Linked DNA regions of Homo sapiens: region 2 is linked to region 1. Evidence: fine-mapped expression QTL. Tissue or cell type: whole blood. Region 1 holds a variant in brackets; the other region holds the start of a gene. All regions are shown on one strand. Distances are between the middles of the regions.

Region 1 (8,346 bases):
TTGTTTGTATCCTCTTTTATTTCATTGAGCAGTGGTTTGTAGTTCTCCTTGAAGAGGTCCTTCACATCCCTTGCAAGTTGGATTCCTAGGTATTTTATTCTCTTTGAAGCAATTGTGAATGGGAGTTCAGTCATGATTTGGCTCTCTGTTTGTCTGTTATTGGTGTATAAGAATGCTTGTGATTTTTGCACATTGATTTTGTATCCTGAGAATTTGCTGAAGTTGCTTATCAGCTTAAGGAGATTTTGGGCTGAGACAATGGGGTTTTCTAGATATACAATCATGTCATCTGCAAACAGGGACAATTTGACTTCCTCTTTTCCTAATTGAATGCCCTTTATTCCCTTCTCCTGCCTGATTGCCCTGGCCAGAACTTCCAACGCTATGTTGAATAGGAGTAGTGAGAGAGGGCATCCCTGTCTTGTGCCAGTTTTCAAAGGGAATGCTTCCAGTTTTTGTCCATTCAGTATGATATTGGCTGTGGGTTTGTCATAGGTAGCTCTTATGATTCTGAGATACATCCCATCAATACCTAATTTATTGAGAGTTTTTAGCATGAAGGGTTGCTGAATTTTGTCAAAGGCCTTTTCTGCATCTATTGAGATAATCATGTGGTTTTTGTCTTTGGTTCTGTTTATATGCTGGATTAAGAAAATGTGGCACATATATACCATGGAATATTATGCAGTCATAAAAAATGATGAGTTCATGTCCTTTGCAGGGACATGGATGAAGCTGGAAACCATCATTTCTCAGCAAACTATAACAAGGACAAAAAAACCAAACACTGCATGTTCTCACTCATAGGTGGGAATTGAACAATGAGAACACATGGACACAGGAAGGGGAACATCACACACCGGGGACTGTTGTGGGGTGGGGGGAGGGGGGAGGGATGGCATTAGGAGATATACCTAATGCTAAATGACGAGTTAATGGGTACAGCACACCAACATGGCACACGTATACATATGTAACAAACCTGCACGTTGTGCACATGTACCCTAAAACTTAAAGTATAATAACAAAAAATATAATTTTCATTTTTCACAATACAGTATTAAATACTTATTCAAACTAAAGGATTACATTATGTGACCTAAAGGAACAGGTTAAAATAAGTATTCTAATAAAAACAATTTCAATATTTCAAATATGTTAAGAATTTTGGGTAGGGCAAATACTTATTAAGAAATGTCCTCCCTTCTTAAGAATAGAAGCCACTTAATTTTGCACAATTGGCAAGTTAAATAATTTGAGTATAAGAATGTTTAAATAGAGCTTTGCTCTTCATAGAAATAATTTTCTTAATAAACTCCCATGCCAATGACAAAATACTTTATAATTGTGACAGATATTATTAAATATAAAAATTTAAAATAAGAATGCATGAAGAACTGTACATTAAAAATATATCTAATTTTTTATTTAAAAATATATATATCTAACTTTAAAACCATATTTCAATTATACAAAACCACAGGTCTTTAAACGGTGATTTAATATAAAATATATTTGCAAGGTTATTGTTTAGAAGTGTATCAGAAACAGAATTTTATAATTTACCTTTCCCTAAATCTATAATGCACATTATCTCAAACTGTTTCATTATTGTAAACTAAAAAACTGAAGTTCAAAATAACTTCACTTACCAGTGAAATAGAAGCTTGTGTTTCTTGTGTAAAACCACCTCAGGAATATATAGAAATCATAAATTTCCTCTTTGTTGTGAGAAGCAAACTTTAAAACTACTCACTACTCATGAATCTCTAAAGGAGATTCATAGGAAAATGACAAAACCAATTTAGGTACTCACAGGACTAAAGAACTAGTCATCATGCTGAACATCTCCAGTTATTTGCTCTGAGGTACTCTGGCTCTTGGTTTAAAAAAAACTGCCCTAAGAACAGTGCTATCTTTACCAAAAATAAATATATAAATAATTATGTCACCTGAGGCCAGGCGCGGTGGCTCACACCTGTAATCCCAGCACTTTGGGAGGCCGAGGAGGGTGGATCACGAGGTCAGGAGATCGAGACCATCCTGGCTAACACGGTGAAACCCCATCTCTACTAAAAATACAAAAATTAGCCGGGCGTGGTGGCGGGCGCCTGTAGTCCCAGCTACTCGGGAGGCTGAGGCAGGAGAATGGCGTGAACCCGGGAGGCGGAGCTTGCAGTGAGCCGAGATCATGCCACTGCACTCCAGCCTGGGCAACAGTGCGAGACTCCGTCTCAAAAAAAAAAAAAAAAAATTATGTCACCTGAAGTCACAATAGCAAAGCATTAAATTTTGATAGGCTACTAAAGTCGAAAATAACACATTGCTAAGCAAACTAAAGCAAAAAGGAAATGAAGAAATAAGCTACATACTCAGCAATTCATAACACTGACATTTCTGACAGAGTCAAGAAAACTGTATGCTAATGAAATAATCAATAGTATTATACACCTATAGAGTGGAAAGAAGACTGTATATAGTCATCTTAGTAATAAAATCCACTAAATAGTAGTATTTTCTTATGTGATTCCATGTTACTCTCAAAGAAAATATGTACTTCCTTTAAATTAATATAACCACTACTGAAACTTACTTGACAAATCATTATACAAGCATAATACTGCACCAAGGTTATTACTGTATTATTTTTCTTTTGAGACAAGGTCTTATTCTGTCACCCAAACTGGAATGCAGTGGCGTGATCACAACTCACTGCAGCTTCAACCTCCCTGGCTAAAGCAGTCCTCCCACCCTCAGTTTCCCAAGTAGCTGGGACTACAGGGTGTGCCAGCACACCTGGCTAATTTTTAAATTTTTTGAAGAGACGAGATTTTGCCATGTTGCCCGGGCTGGCCTCAAACTCCTGGGCTCAAGTAATCCTCCTGCCTTAGCCTTTCAAAGTGCTAGGATTATAGACATGAGCCACTGCACCCAACCACCAAGTTTATTTTTAGTGGTTTAAAAGATGTTAAAATTGAAGTTTGAGGCATCTAAACCACAAATGCAGAACTAAGCTACTTGAAAAACAAGATTGTCTTCTTCATATTGCAAGTATTTCTAAAAACATATACCTATCAAATACATTGTACTTTATATGAAAAACGGCAGTACTGACACACTGCCATCCATTCATTCATTCATCTAACCAACCATTTACTGAACATCAGTGAAATAAGTACTGTGTGCCAAGTGCTAAAGATAAAGGGGTGAGCAAAACCAAACAATCCCCCGTGTATTTCCTAGAATCTAGTATCTAATTACGCTTATAAGTATAATGGAGTAAAAGTAGGGGACACTATAAAGGGGACCTGTCTCCTTAAGGAAGTAATATTTAAATTAAGAACAAAAGGATTATTAGCTAAGCTAGCTAAGCTGGGGAAACTGAAGCTTGTGCGTGTGTTTTCATTCTTAGAATGAAAGGTGGACAGGGAATAATAATGAGAGCAAGCCATCATGGGTGAAGTGCAATCAGAGACTCTAGGGTTAGTAGGGGGTCAGATTAGGTAGGACCTTGAAGGTCATATTGACGATTTTCTATGTTGTCCTAATGGAAAACCCTTGAAGGGTTTTAAGCAAAGGAGTGCCAAGATCAGGAATGACCATTCATTCTAATTGCTCTATGGAGACTTGGGCAGTGGGGAATGGCAGAATAAATGCAGGTAGACCAGACAGAAGATGAATAAAGTAGTCCAGAGACAGAGATGGTAGTCACTTGGACTATGTGATAGTGATACAGAAGCATGTCAACTCAAGATATATTCTGGAGGTAGAAGGAAACAGGCTAATAATTAATTAGATCACCAGAAGGGGTGAAGCCCAAGTTCTTGGCTTAAGAAACTTTCTATAGTCAGCCAAAAACTGAAAATTATTTCTAAAGCAGATCAATTATATCAATATATGACTCCCTATCCACAAAGTCTATGGGATTAGGAAAAGACTTATGACTAACTCTAGTAATATGTACAACCAAGTAACTGGGCTCATGGAGAGAGTAATTTAATGGTATTTGGGACAGGGGTAGTGGGAGAATGATGAGTTTTAAAGCCAAAATTAATTGAGAAAGCAAGAGAACATTTAGTGGCTTTCCTTTTTTTCCCCCTTTCATTTTTTTCCTTACATTTCATTATTCTGTATGGCATATGCCCGCTTTACCTATTTCAGCCTGAAGGATAAATCTTAGATTTACTTAATTGCTTTGTTCGCCTACATCGTTGCCATTCTCTATGCCCTGTAACTTCAGTCCACCTGACTTCTAGAATAGAGAGCCAGGGTAAACACAATATTCCTGGCATTTCACCTTCCAATGCCCCACAATTCATATGAAATGTCATCTTCTTTCTGTAGGAGACAGCATGGAAGAGGAAGACTCTGTCT[TAA/T]AAAAAAAAAAAAAAAAGGAAAGAAAGAAAGAAAAAAACAAAAAGAAAAGAATCTTAACCTGGAAGAGAAATTAAAACACCAAATAATTCATATCCGATTTTTGTAGATTAGCAAACTTACCTGAAAAAGCTAAGAAACTTCTCTAAGTTCACAAAATCAGTGGCAGAGATGAGACTAGATTTTGTCTTCAGATTTTGCATCTATTGCTTGCTCTACTGTATTTTTGTCAGTATACATATTTTAATTTTTTATTTCAAGTTTCTGGGGTACATGGATAAGTGATTTGGTAGTGATTTCTGGGATTATGGTACACCCATCACCTGAGCAGTGTACACTGTACCCAGTATGTAGTCTTTTATCCCTCAGCCCCCTCCCACCCTCTTAATCTGTTACTGTTTATTATTACTATTATTATTTTGTAGAGATGGGGTCTCCCTAACTTGCCTGCCCAGGCTGGTGTCGAACTCCTGAGCTCAAGCAATCCTCCTGCCTCAGCCTCCTATTAGAGATGTGAGCCACTATACCTGGCCTTGTTACTGTATTTAAGTCTATTTTGTATTCTCGACAAATTGGCCTCCCAAATTTCACAATACCCTAAAAGATTTTCAATGGTATTTTGAAGCTCCAAATAATGTTCCTCAATTCCCAGATGACTACTTCCTTCAATAAATATTTACAGATTACATATTATGGTTAAAATATAGAAAGTGAAAGGAATAGAAAAGAAGTAAAATAGCTTCACCACCCAGCAGCTTACAAAATAATCAGGAAGCAAAAATATGTAACAGAAAATGTAAAACAATAAAAATGAACATATAGCTAAGGTCTAAAGTAGACTAAGGTAAATTATTATGCATGTAGAGAGAATGAAATCAAAACCAGCTAAAGAGGTTAAAGGAAGACAGTAATTTAGACCTGTTCTGTCCAATAAATTAACCAGCTAGCCACAAGTTGCTAAATTAAAACGAAGTAAATAATTTAAAAATCAGTTCCTCAGTCACACTAGCCACATTTCAAGTGCTCAATAGCCATACTGGACAGGGTAGTTACAGAACACTACCTTCACTGCAGAAAGTTGTACTGGACAGCACTGATGTCCATCACAAGTAAAACAGCAAGTTGAGAATAAGAGAGGAAAAATAAGGACACTTGCTTGAAAGGAAAACAGAAGCAGGAATAAAAGATTTTTTAAAAAAGCAATCAAATTGAAGATTTTGAACTTTGGTGGTCAACAAGGAACAAATAAGTTCCTTAAAAGGAGTAAAAGGGCTGGGCACAGTGGCTCACGCCTGTAATCACAGCACTTTGGGAGGCTGAGGCGGGCAGATCACCTTACATCAGGAGTTCGAGACCAGCCTGGCTAACATGGTAAAACCCCGTTTCTACTAAAAATACAAAAAATTAGCCAGGCTTGGTGGCACGAGCCTGTAATCCCAGCTACTTGGGAGGCTGAGGCAGGAGAATCACTTGAACCCAGGAGGCGAAGGTTGCAGTGAACTGAGATCACGCCATTGCATTCCAGCATGGGCATCAAGAGTGAAACTCTGTCTCAAAATAAAAGAGTAAAAGAGGACAAACATTTGATCTTAAAAAGATTTTAATGTGTATTATGGAGTAAATGTGGAATGACTAGAGAGAGTAAACCACTGGGTCATAGGGTATATATACACATACATACATACAGCTTTAGTAACTATTGTCAAATAGTTTTCAAAGTGCTTGAACTAATTTATACCCCCATCAGCAACTTACGAGAGTTCCAGCTGTTTGACATTCTTGGTAACACTTGGTATCACACACTAGCAATTTGAGGATCCAAGCAAAACTAACCACATTTCATTCTAAAGTTTCATCTAGTCTACTAAAATTTTTAATTTCCAAAATCTTTGGCCACAAATAACTATAATAAAATATTAAATGTATTACTCTTGATTGAATGCTTTCTAGGAAATAAACAAGGTGGAGATAAAAGCATCCTACATGTTATAAAAACAATTATTTCCCACATTCTGTAATATAAGAATTCTATAAACTCAAGAATTCCAAGATTGGTCTAAACAATAGGATCAACAAAATGCACACTTACATTCATTCATCTCTTGCACAAGTTTAATAAAGTAATAGTAATTTTTAAATACTACTTTATATTTGTAGACATACATGAAATCACAATATTAATCACAATTTTGAGTGAACTTAAAAAACTTACAAAATCACCTCTATTATGTTTACTTTTTAGCTACTTCCTCAACTTTCTACTGTTTCTTAACATCATAGATGAAAGAAAATTAAAAAATATAGAAAAAGTGGTAAGTATATTATTATCTTAGTTCTATTTCCCCACTGGACATGGAAATGCTATGCCAAATCAAATCAGTGAGAAAAATCAACTTACATCTTATTTGGGTGTCACAACCATCCCATTATATGCACATATTATTATATATTTTTGTCCTTTTTAGAAAAAAAATATAAACTTTATTGAGGTATAAGTGAAGCACAACATACAGCATGTGGCAGGCAGAATTCTAAGATGGCCGCATGATATCCAGTCCCTAGCACTATTCCTATGATTATATTACATGTTAAGAGAGGTTTTAAAGATATAATTATGGTCAATTATCAGCTGACCTTAAAATTGGGAGATTATATGGGTGGGCTTAACCTAATCACATGAGCCCTTTGAAAGTAGAGCTTTCTCCAGCTGACAACGGAGAAAGGAGGCAAAGATTTGAAGCATGAGGGAGATGTGGCAGCTACTGCTGGCTTAAAGATGGAGGGAACCTGAAAGCAGTTCTAGGAGCTAGAAACCTTTTTCTGACACCCAGGGAGAAGACAGGAACCTGGAAACCAGGAACAATAATATTAAATCCAACAAAAACTTACTCTGGTTAACTACTCTCCTTAAGTTGGGATTCTGTTATTATTTCATATATGTCTGTATTATCAAAATTCTTCTAAACTTTGATTTTGTCTTAGTCCAACAGAAACAATTCACAATACAATGAAGAATTATATCCATCAGGAAAAATAGAATCTGCCTCTGTACTTGTTAGATATTAAAAGAGAAGCTTAAGATTGTACAACTACCAGGAACTTGAATGAGCTTGCAAGGTGATTGTTCCCCAGAGCCAACAGAAAAGAAATGTAGCCGTCAGTGCCATGATTTTGGACTTCTGAGTCCCTATGCAGAGAATCCAGCCAAGCCTATTCATACTTCTGACTTATAGGACTATAAGATAATTACTAGAGATGTTTTAGCCTGCTAAATGTGTGGTAATTCGTTAAGCAGTGATAGAAAACTAATGCATTGCACATACTGGTGTAAAATTTGATTAGGTTTATAACAGTTTTAACATGGCTTAATACTGTGAAATCATCACAATCATCCCCCAAATTTTCTCCTTTGTAATCCCTTCCTCCCCTCATGTTTCCAAGGACCACTGACCTGTCACCATAGATTAATTTGCTTGTTGAATTCTATATAAATGGATTCACAGAGTAGTAACTATTGTCTGCCTTCTTTTGTTCAGCCTAATGATTGAGATGATTGAGATTCATCCATGTTGTTGCACTTGTTTATGGAAATTTGGGTAATATTCCGGTTTTGATTATTGTAAATAAAGTAACTTATGAACATTTTATACAAGTCTCTATGTGGATATGGTTTTGTTTTTCTTGGGTAAATACTTAGCAGTGGAACGGTTGGGTTATACGTTTAGCTTTGTAAAAAACTACAAAATTGCTTTCCAAAGCAGTTTAACCATTTTACATTTCCACCAACAGAGTTCTAGGTGAAGATAGGGAGCCAGGAAATAATAATGGCAAAATAGTTTAACCAAATCTACTGTTCTGGTTTCTGTTCCAGTTTGACCTTATGGCAGATAAAAATAACTAGCTGTACAATGTAATGATAAACTGACATTTTGAGTCCAAAAAGAAAGTTTAAGACTGATTTAATAAGAGCCC
Region 2 (8,346 bases), 31 kb after region 1:
AGTTACAGATCCTAGCATTTCAGGGTACATCTGAAACTTATTTTTCCCATAGAAAGACTGTCATACAAATTATTATAGGTATTTTAATATACTTATGCTAATTATTAACATAATTTTATAATTTCTTTAGTATTAACATAATCCTATAATTCAGGTATTTTATTATTTAAATAGGCTTTAGTGGGCTGTCTGTGACTCTAACCACTAAGTATACTGTTTCTGAGAAAATAAGACTCAAGTTCCAAACCATTTTACAAGTTGTAAAATGTAATCAATTGTGTAGTAAGTTAGAACTACCAATTCACAAAGACTCAAAATTATAAGCTGAATGTGATAAACTTAAAACACAAGATTCTTAATTTTATAAAAAGTTCCACTTCAGGGGTCATTTATTTTTAACAACTAGGTACTCAAGCATTCAGCATAGGATTTAATTTACATATATCTTTTTTATTACTATTTCACTAGAAAACGTAAGTCACAAAGAATCAAACACACTTCTATCTAGTGTAGGAAAAACAAAAAATATGTTAACATACATCTTCATAAAGTGAGCTATAAGAAGAAAATTGTTAATATTTCATAAATCAAAGACTACTAACATATACATTATTAAGTATCTAGTGCCAGTTCAAAAGTGTACAGGTAATGGAATTATATCTGAGCAGGTAAATGGAGTTCAAAGAACCTTGAAATTCATTTTTCTCTTTTCTCCTGAGATAAAGTTATACATTTCATTAATTATAATGTTTGATAAATCTTTAAAAATGTTTCACTAAATATATTAATTCAATGGATATTCTTTACCCATTCATTTTATTTGTTCAACAAAGAAAATTGAGCCCCTGCTATTTGTTAAACACTATACTAACAACTTTGGATTTATGACAATAAGCTGCAGGTCAGTTTCTCTCCTCAAAGAACTAAGAAAAACCACGACTTTACTGCATTTACCCAAGTGACGGTGTCAGCTAAATTTTAATTCATTTAAGAAAACATTATAAAACAAATTCTCAAAAACGAAACCATACAATAGTAACTTTAAACACACTTTAATAGTCTTATCTATATGAAGTTTTCTCACAAAGTAACCAAAAGCACTGTTTTGGTAAAAGTGCTAATAACATAATCTTTTGATAGTAGTCCAATAAGGAAATCACAAGGTACTATGTACTGTGATAATGAAAATCCAACACTTGGAAAAGATATCTTAAGTTATTCCTAAAATAAAGCAAAATGTATAATTAAATATAGTCTTATACAATATTAAAACTGTCTCTGAATATATGAATATTTACAAACATGAGTAATAAAGTAACTCTATAGCATACCTTATAAATGATCACAACTATGTATTTTGGATTGTAACACCTGCAAATTTGTAACAAAAAGGGCCTTAATATTTTTCGAATATATTATTCTTCACTAACTTAATTCAATATTCTACTTATTATCAAGTCATAATTTTTGTTTACTATTAACTATTTTATCTATATGTTTAACTATATGTAGGTATTAACTGTAATAACCTTTATGTCTGCAATTATTTAAAACCCTTGATAGATGAGAAACATTTTTCAGTTCAGAGGCATACCTCTCCAAAGCAAAAATCAATGTTAATCAGCCATTCTAATATGCCATGGAAAATCCTGACATTTTTTCATTGTATTTTTCACAGAAATTTTTTAATCATTCATCAGCTAAAAGATTTAAATTTTCTTTAAAAGGACTACAAAAACACACCTTTCCTGAATTTATGCACACTACCTACTAAATATTATCTCCATTTACATATAAGGAAACCAAGGCACAAAGGTGTCCATTTTGTAAATTGCAAGGTCATTTCCTAACCAAGCAACTAATCCTACACCATCAACTTATATTATATGTACGCCACTTCCAAGTGCCATAAAACAATTACTATACCTTAAAACTGCCTCTGCAATGCTTATGTGATTCTCTTTTATCAAAAGGGTAAATGCAACAAGCTTAAACAAGGAAAGATGGAAAAGGAAAATTATAAAAATACAACACTTACTTTTTATAGTGAATCATTTATTTTTAAATAATGAGATGTAAACAGTTTTTAACATAAAAATCAAGTAACCAACAGTGGTTTCTTATATTTGCAAAAAAAAAAAAATTTCATCCTTCAGGTAGATCACGCAAAACTGAAGCCTACTCATACTTGTAGATTCAAGTTAGAAAAAAAAAAACTGGATTCTAAAACAAGTAATTAAATACATGATATTGCAAAGAAAAAAGTGAATAAAAAATAAAATCAGATAAATTAGGGAATGACTGATATGATGGTTAAAATCCTCATCTTAAATATTAAATCCTTCCATTCAATGGAAGGCAACGATTAGTAATGACATATTCTGCTACCGAAAAACAAATACAAAACTTTTCTTATTCAAAACTTCCGAAATTTTATATCAAATACTTCATTCAAATATTCAATATAAACAAAAATGTTTCCTAACAGAAACTTAGAGCATAAAGGATAAACTGTTCCTGAGAGTTCAAATTGAGACTGCATTTCTAATTATGATATAATGCTATGAACAATCAGAAAAATGAATGTTACCTACCATGCAAATTTAAATTTAAGAACATTAGACGGATTGAATAACCAATAAGTCAATTACATCAATTAGTGAACAGAAAAAAGACCTTAGCTAATCGTGAATCTAACACCAAAGAAAAAATTTAAGTCGAATCCACCGCACATCTTATTACATAGAAAAGGAAATGATTAGAGTAAGTCGTATTTAAGTACCTAGTCTAGCTGGGGATCAATTAATTAATCGGTTATAGGGCAGGACGTGAATGTTGAGATCGGATGTGCTTTCTTTCATCGTTATTCCAGTTCATCATCCGCAAGTGCAAGAGAAGGTGTCAGAGTACCGAAGCTAGGGGGCATGCTGTAGCAAGGGGAAAAGAAAAATGGGAAAGGTGCAATGGATGCTGCATAGTTGAATAATTATCTGGGTGGCACAATGGGCGAGTCCTGCCGACATGAGCGCTGAGTGAGCGGCTCCGTAACTCTGCCCAAGGCAGCCCCCATGAACAGGCACCAGAAGCGACAGCACCGCTTCGCCTCCCCTTCCAACGAAGAAAAGGATGCCCGCACTCGCTTTACCGTTATGTTTTCAGACACCGACTCGCGGAGCAAACACGCAAACGCACGAGCTCGCTTTACCGAGCCTCGCGCACGTAGGGCGAGCAGGGGATTCTCTGTCGCCCGGGGCTACCGCCTCCCCCGGAAAGAGGCACGGGGCGGACCGCGGGCGCGGGTGGGCAGGGAAGCCCGGGCGGTGGCACCTCAGGTGACACCCACAGTCTCTCCAGCGAGAGCAGCCCCGGGGCGGTCCCTGCAGCCAAGCCCCAGGCGCGCCCGCCGCCGTCTCCCTCGGCACCCAGCCCCGCTGGCGGGTGGGCGGTGGGCGCTCGGAAAACCCGCGGATGGGGGTGGGGGCCGGGGCGGGGAAGGCGCGCCCATCCATCCCCGTCACCTTTGCGGGCCACACACCACTCGGTCTGCTCCGGCCAGTAAGGAAGAGTTCCTCTCCCAACACCCCCTCCCCGAAAAAAGCAATTCCTCAGGGACTCGCGCTCACCGTGAAATCTTGGGGGCTCACGCCTTACCCCTTCTTCATGCTTCGGCAGCGGTCGCCGGTCCCCCTCGGCTCGCGGGACTCCGCCTAGAGCCCCCAGGAGGGTCGGGCTCTGGGGCGGAACCCGCTCAGGGCAGCGGCCCAGGCGCCAGGCCACAGGGAACGCCGCCTGGGGCGCCAACCCGCCGCCGGACCCACCGTGTGCTCGACGCGCGAGTGAACAACACCGCGAGCTGCCGTTCCCCCCGCCCCCTCCCCGCGCGAGACGCTCCACAACCGGGCGCAGGGACCCGCGCCAGAAGCAGGGGGGACCGCGAGACTCTTTCCGCCTATGGTCCCATCCTTGCCCCCCGCCCCAGGAGCTATTCCTGGCCAGTCAGAGGTCTCAAAACTTCAGATTCTCACTTTCCTCTTCAGCCTCCAGTGCCCAGGTGCAGCCGAGGTGGGAAATCCAGCCTCCGCCCACTCCCCCATTAGTGGGGCCGAAGCTCGCTCTTCCCCCCTTTCCTGAGGTTCTGTGGTATTGCCCAATCCTCAGTTTGGGGGAGGGGGACGAAGAGAACACTGCTTGGCTAGGGAATGAGGGAAGATGATAGCCAATTGAATGGAACATCCATTCGGGGGCGGGGTCAAAGGGGGACACGCCCCCGTTCCGCCCCCTCGTTGCAAACTACACTTCCCATTGTGCCCTCTCGCGCTTCCTGCCGCGCTGCACGCTGGGAGTGCAGGACCGCGAGGCCTCAAGGTATTTTGGAACTCATATTCTTTAGTCAACTAGGTCCTAAATGTTATAAACTATTATAATTCTCCCTTTTTCCCTAGATAAACTTTTTTAAGCTCTCAGCTCGACAGTAGTTATTCTAATAATAATTAGCTTATTGTTTCAAAATGTAAGACATTATTTCTTAGCAAAGAAAGTTAATGATGTGTTCCATTGCAATCTGTCAGGACCTGGGAGCCTCTTCTTCTTCCGCCCTGGCAGGGTCTCCGCAGAAGATTTGTTGCCGTCATGTCGGCTGCGATTGCAGCTCTGGCCGCTTCCTATGGTTCGGGTTCAGGGTCCGAATCGGACTCGGACAGTGAGAGCAGTCGGTGTCCGCTGCCAGCCGCCGACTCCCTCATGCACTTGACTAAATCGCCTTCATCAAAGCCGTCTCTAGCAGTGGCAGTGGACTCGGCTCCGGAGGTGGCAGTTAAGGTAAGCACTTTTGCTACTAATGCAGTGTGGGAATTGTTGGCTTCAGCTCCAGAACTGCCAGCCGCTTGTTAGGTACCGGGTTACCTCTTTCTCAGTGCTCAGAGATAAGTTGCTAACGTTTGAATTTCTTCTCCTTCCCACATGCATCCTCGGGAGAGGCAGAATTGGAAGTTCGGAATAGCCCTCCGATGCTCTCTGCCCTTGCCTCCCGCCATCAGAAAGCAAGTGGAAGGAGGGGATGAAATTTGAATTTGTGGATTAGGGACATAGCCTGGAAAGTGCAGGTGTAATCTCGGAACATAAGTGAAATTAGATCAGGACTTCCCAAACTAGAGTATTGTGTGAGCAGTGGCCTCGATTTGTCTTATTTTTGAAGAACTAGGTTCTAATCCTGGCACCACCACTTGTGTGAACTTGGACAAGTTATGCAGCCTCCTTTCTTTCCTCACCTGTACAGTGGAGATCATTTTCAAAACATCTGTCTACATGAAAAGATGAGTGTGAAAATTGAGTGAAATTACACAAATAAAGCATATAGCACAGAGCCAACTAGTGAGAGTGCAGTAAATGTTTTATGATTGTGTGTGTTAATACAGTGAGAAAAAGGCCTTGGATTTGAGAAACAGCTGCATGATCTCAATGGAGGAAGCTGATTAATAAGGCAAGAGTTTCCAGGCAGAGGTGACAGGCAAGCCTGAGAACGCAAAGAGCCTAGTGGGTTTGAAGAACTGAGGAAAAGCTGATGTGTCTGGAGCCTGATGAGAGCATCTACCAATTGGTAGTGTAGGCCCAGTAGAGCCCGAGGTAGGTGATCAGCTCAAGATGTGAAGAGGGGAGGCGGTGTCCAAAAATTCCTTTGTATCATGTCCCCAAGTCTAGTTTAATGACTTAAGAAGTGTTTTACAGGTTTTTAACAAGCTGTATGTGAATTTTACTTTTTAAAAATGGACATCTGTCATGAAAGAATGCTTAGAATCCTCCTAACTTCCTATCAAAACAAAACTTTCCAAACTTAAGCCCCTCCAGTAACCTCCTGAGTCTTCTCCTTTCACAGCTCAGCTTTTTGGAGCTCTCTTTTTGTCTTCGTCTCATTTTCTCCTCAACCCAATGCAGTCTGGCCCTATCCTCTTGGGAAACTACTGTCTGTGAGTGATGTCCCAGGCCTTCCAGTTGTCAAGTTCAGCCATCTGACTTAAATGTCTGCATCAAATGACACTGTTCATTAGTTCCTCTTTCTTGAAACTTTCTCTCCGTTTCGCTTCCATGGGGCTCTACTCAGCATTCTGTTCCAATTATTTTACTCTCCCTTTTCAATACTGGTGTTTCCCAGGACTCTGCTCTTAGTCCTCTTTGCATTCCACATATTCTCCCATACCTTCAACCTCAGGCTGTGCTGCTTCTAGCTCAAGGTGAACACCGTGAAATGGTTAGCACAGGCTCTGGAATTAAGACTGTAATTCAAATCCTGCCTCCAGCACTTACCCACCTGGGGACCTTGGATAAGTTACTTAAATGCTCTGTACCTAATTTTTGCTGATCTGTAAAGTAGGAATAACAGTAGTACCTATCTAACAGAATTATAATAATTGTCATAAAAGATGTAAAGCCCTTTTAACAGTGCCACACACAATGAACACTAATTAAATGCTTGCTATCCTTTTATTTCCAGTTCTATCCTCCTTGCTAGCTTACGATCTTGAGAGGTATATAAAAATCTCCCACAGTAATTGTACATTTGTCTTTTGCAGGTTGGCGCTCAGCCACCTCCAATTCAGTGTGTCGAAAAATTATTTTCTTTCCCTCAAAATCCACTTCTGTTTTTCCTATTTTGATCTGTCATCCCACAATCCACCCACTAGTTGAAGCCGAGAACAAAGAAGGTATCCTTTTCTCTTCCTTCTTCCTCAGCCCCTGAAGCTAGTCATTCAATTGATTCTAACATTGCTGTTTCATTAATTTCTCTCACATCAACTCCTTCCTTGCTATTTTCACTGGTGCAGGCTTCATATCTTCCTTATTTCTCCCAGGAGTTATTCTTTTCTTTCTCTTTCAGCCTTTTTGGGTAGTGGGTTCTGTCCACTTTAACTCAATGATATTCATCAAATCTCTCTCTTCTGCTGCCACTGTTTAGTTCAGATTCTCATCATTTCTCTTCAGACAGTTGTAGCCTTCTAACTGATCTTTCTACTTCTTCCTTTCTTGTCTCCCAGTTTTATACCCCATTCTTTTCTCCACAGTGCACTTAGAATGATCTTTGTAAATTCCACTTACATCGTATCACTTCCCTGCCCAAAGACACCATGTTGTCCAATGGGTGATTTCTAAGTTTTTTTGGTAGCATGTGAGTCCTGCTATTCTCCCATGCTGAACTCTTTACAAAGCCCTGAAAGCCGAATTTTCTTTCTTCCTCTGAAGATTTTGCCCACGCTAGTCTTTCTGCCTGGAAATCCCTTGCCTAGTGCCTCCTTCCCCCACTCCAAACACTGTGGTCCTTCAGTCTCAGTGTATATGTTTCCTCCTATTTTACCTTAGCCCCTTTATCATATCTTAACTATAGCACTTAGCACATTGCTGTAACTTGTTCATCTTTTTCTTTCCTCTGGACTGTGAGACCCTGGGGTCCAGAGACTGTTGTATCCATTCGTTTGTGTCTCCAGTGCCTAGTACACAAGATTAGGGAAGTATATTTGGTAAGAGAATGGAATGAAAAAGAAAGTCTTGTAAAAGTATGCACATTAAGAATCAGAATTTTAGAGCTGGACATGCAGTGGCAGGGATGGGGGTGTTTGTCTAGAGCTCACTTAGTGCAATCACGAATAAATAAGGGAACCCAGGAGGAAAGGCTGCGTAAGGTACCAGAAGTCCATTAGAGGTAGAGCTGGGGCTAGTCCACCCAGTGGTCTGGGTTCTATGAGAGCGTAGAGGGCATTGCTCATTGTTGGTTTATGAACCAACACTTGTTTATATGAAGGGAAAACAAACTTACACATAGTAAATATAATGATTGCAAATGATTGGAAAATTGGAAAATGACCAAGGGAGATGTGAAGCATGCAAATATATTCATCTGTAGTTGACTAATTGTATTATGATTAATAGCAAGCATTTTGGCAGAGAATACATTTTTGCAGCGTTTTTAATCTATGTTTTTTCCGAGCTGTTTCCTGCAGTTGAGTATCTTTTAATATGTTATTGGTGATTTAATTTTTTTTTCTTTGGAAGCAACTATTGGGTTGTCATTTCCTTTTGATTTTTAGAAGACCTTTACATATTCTGGATACTATCCTTTGTCAATTGTGTGTGTTGCAAATTTTTTTTCTTTTGTGACTTGTCTTCTCACTTTTCCCTGTTGTTTACAAACAATTATTTATGTAGTCTGTGCTTGTCAAATTATTCCTTTATGTATCGGGTTCCTGTTGCTTGTTTGAGAAATCCTTAACTCATAGTCATGAAAATATTCTCTTGTATTATCTCTTGAAAGCTTTTCACATTTAAGTCATTAATCCATATGAAATTAACTTTTGTCTA

Evidence for each region. PIP is the estimated chance that this variant, and not a neighbour inherited with it, causes the effect.
Region 2: it holds the start of WASF1, and the variant in region 1 is fine-mapped to the expression of WASF1 in whole blood (INTERVAL, PIP above 0.99).

The regions. Positions count from the first base shown.
Region 1 is chr6:110,145,110-110,153,455 of GRCh38, forward strand. All of the region lies in intron 3 of WASF1 (WASP family member 1), which reads right to left. Among named protein-coding and RNA genes, the nearest start is that of WASF1, 30 kb to the right of the region's middle. The variant TAA/T (reference allele first, on the strand shown) is at 4,375.
Region 2 is chr6:110,175,816-110,184,161 of GRCh38, forward strand. It overlaps WASF1 (WASP family member 1), which reads right to left and starts at 3,855. Exons shown (of 11, transcript NM_003931.3): 1 at 3,624-3,855; 2 at 2,783-2,927. It overlaps CDC40 (cell division cycle 40), which reads left to right and starts at 4,612. Exons shown (of 15, transcript NM_015891.3): 1 at 4,612-4,818. The coding sequence starts at 4,630. RefSeq lists silencers at 3,215-3,534, 3,775-3,884.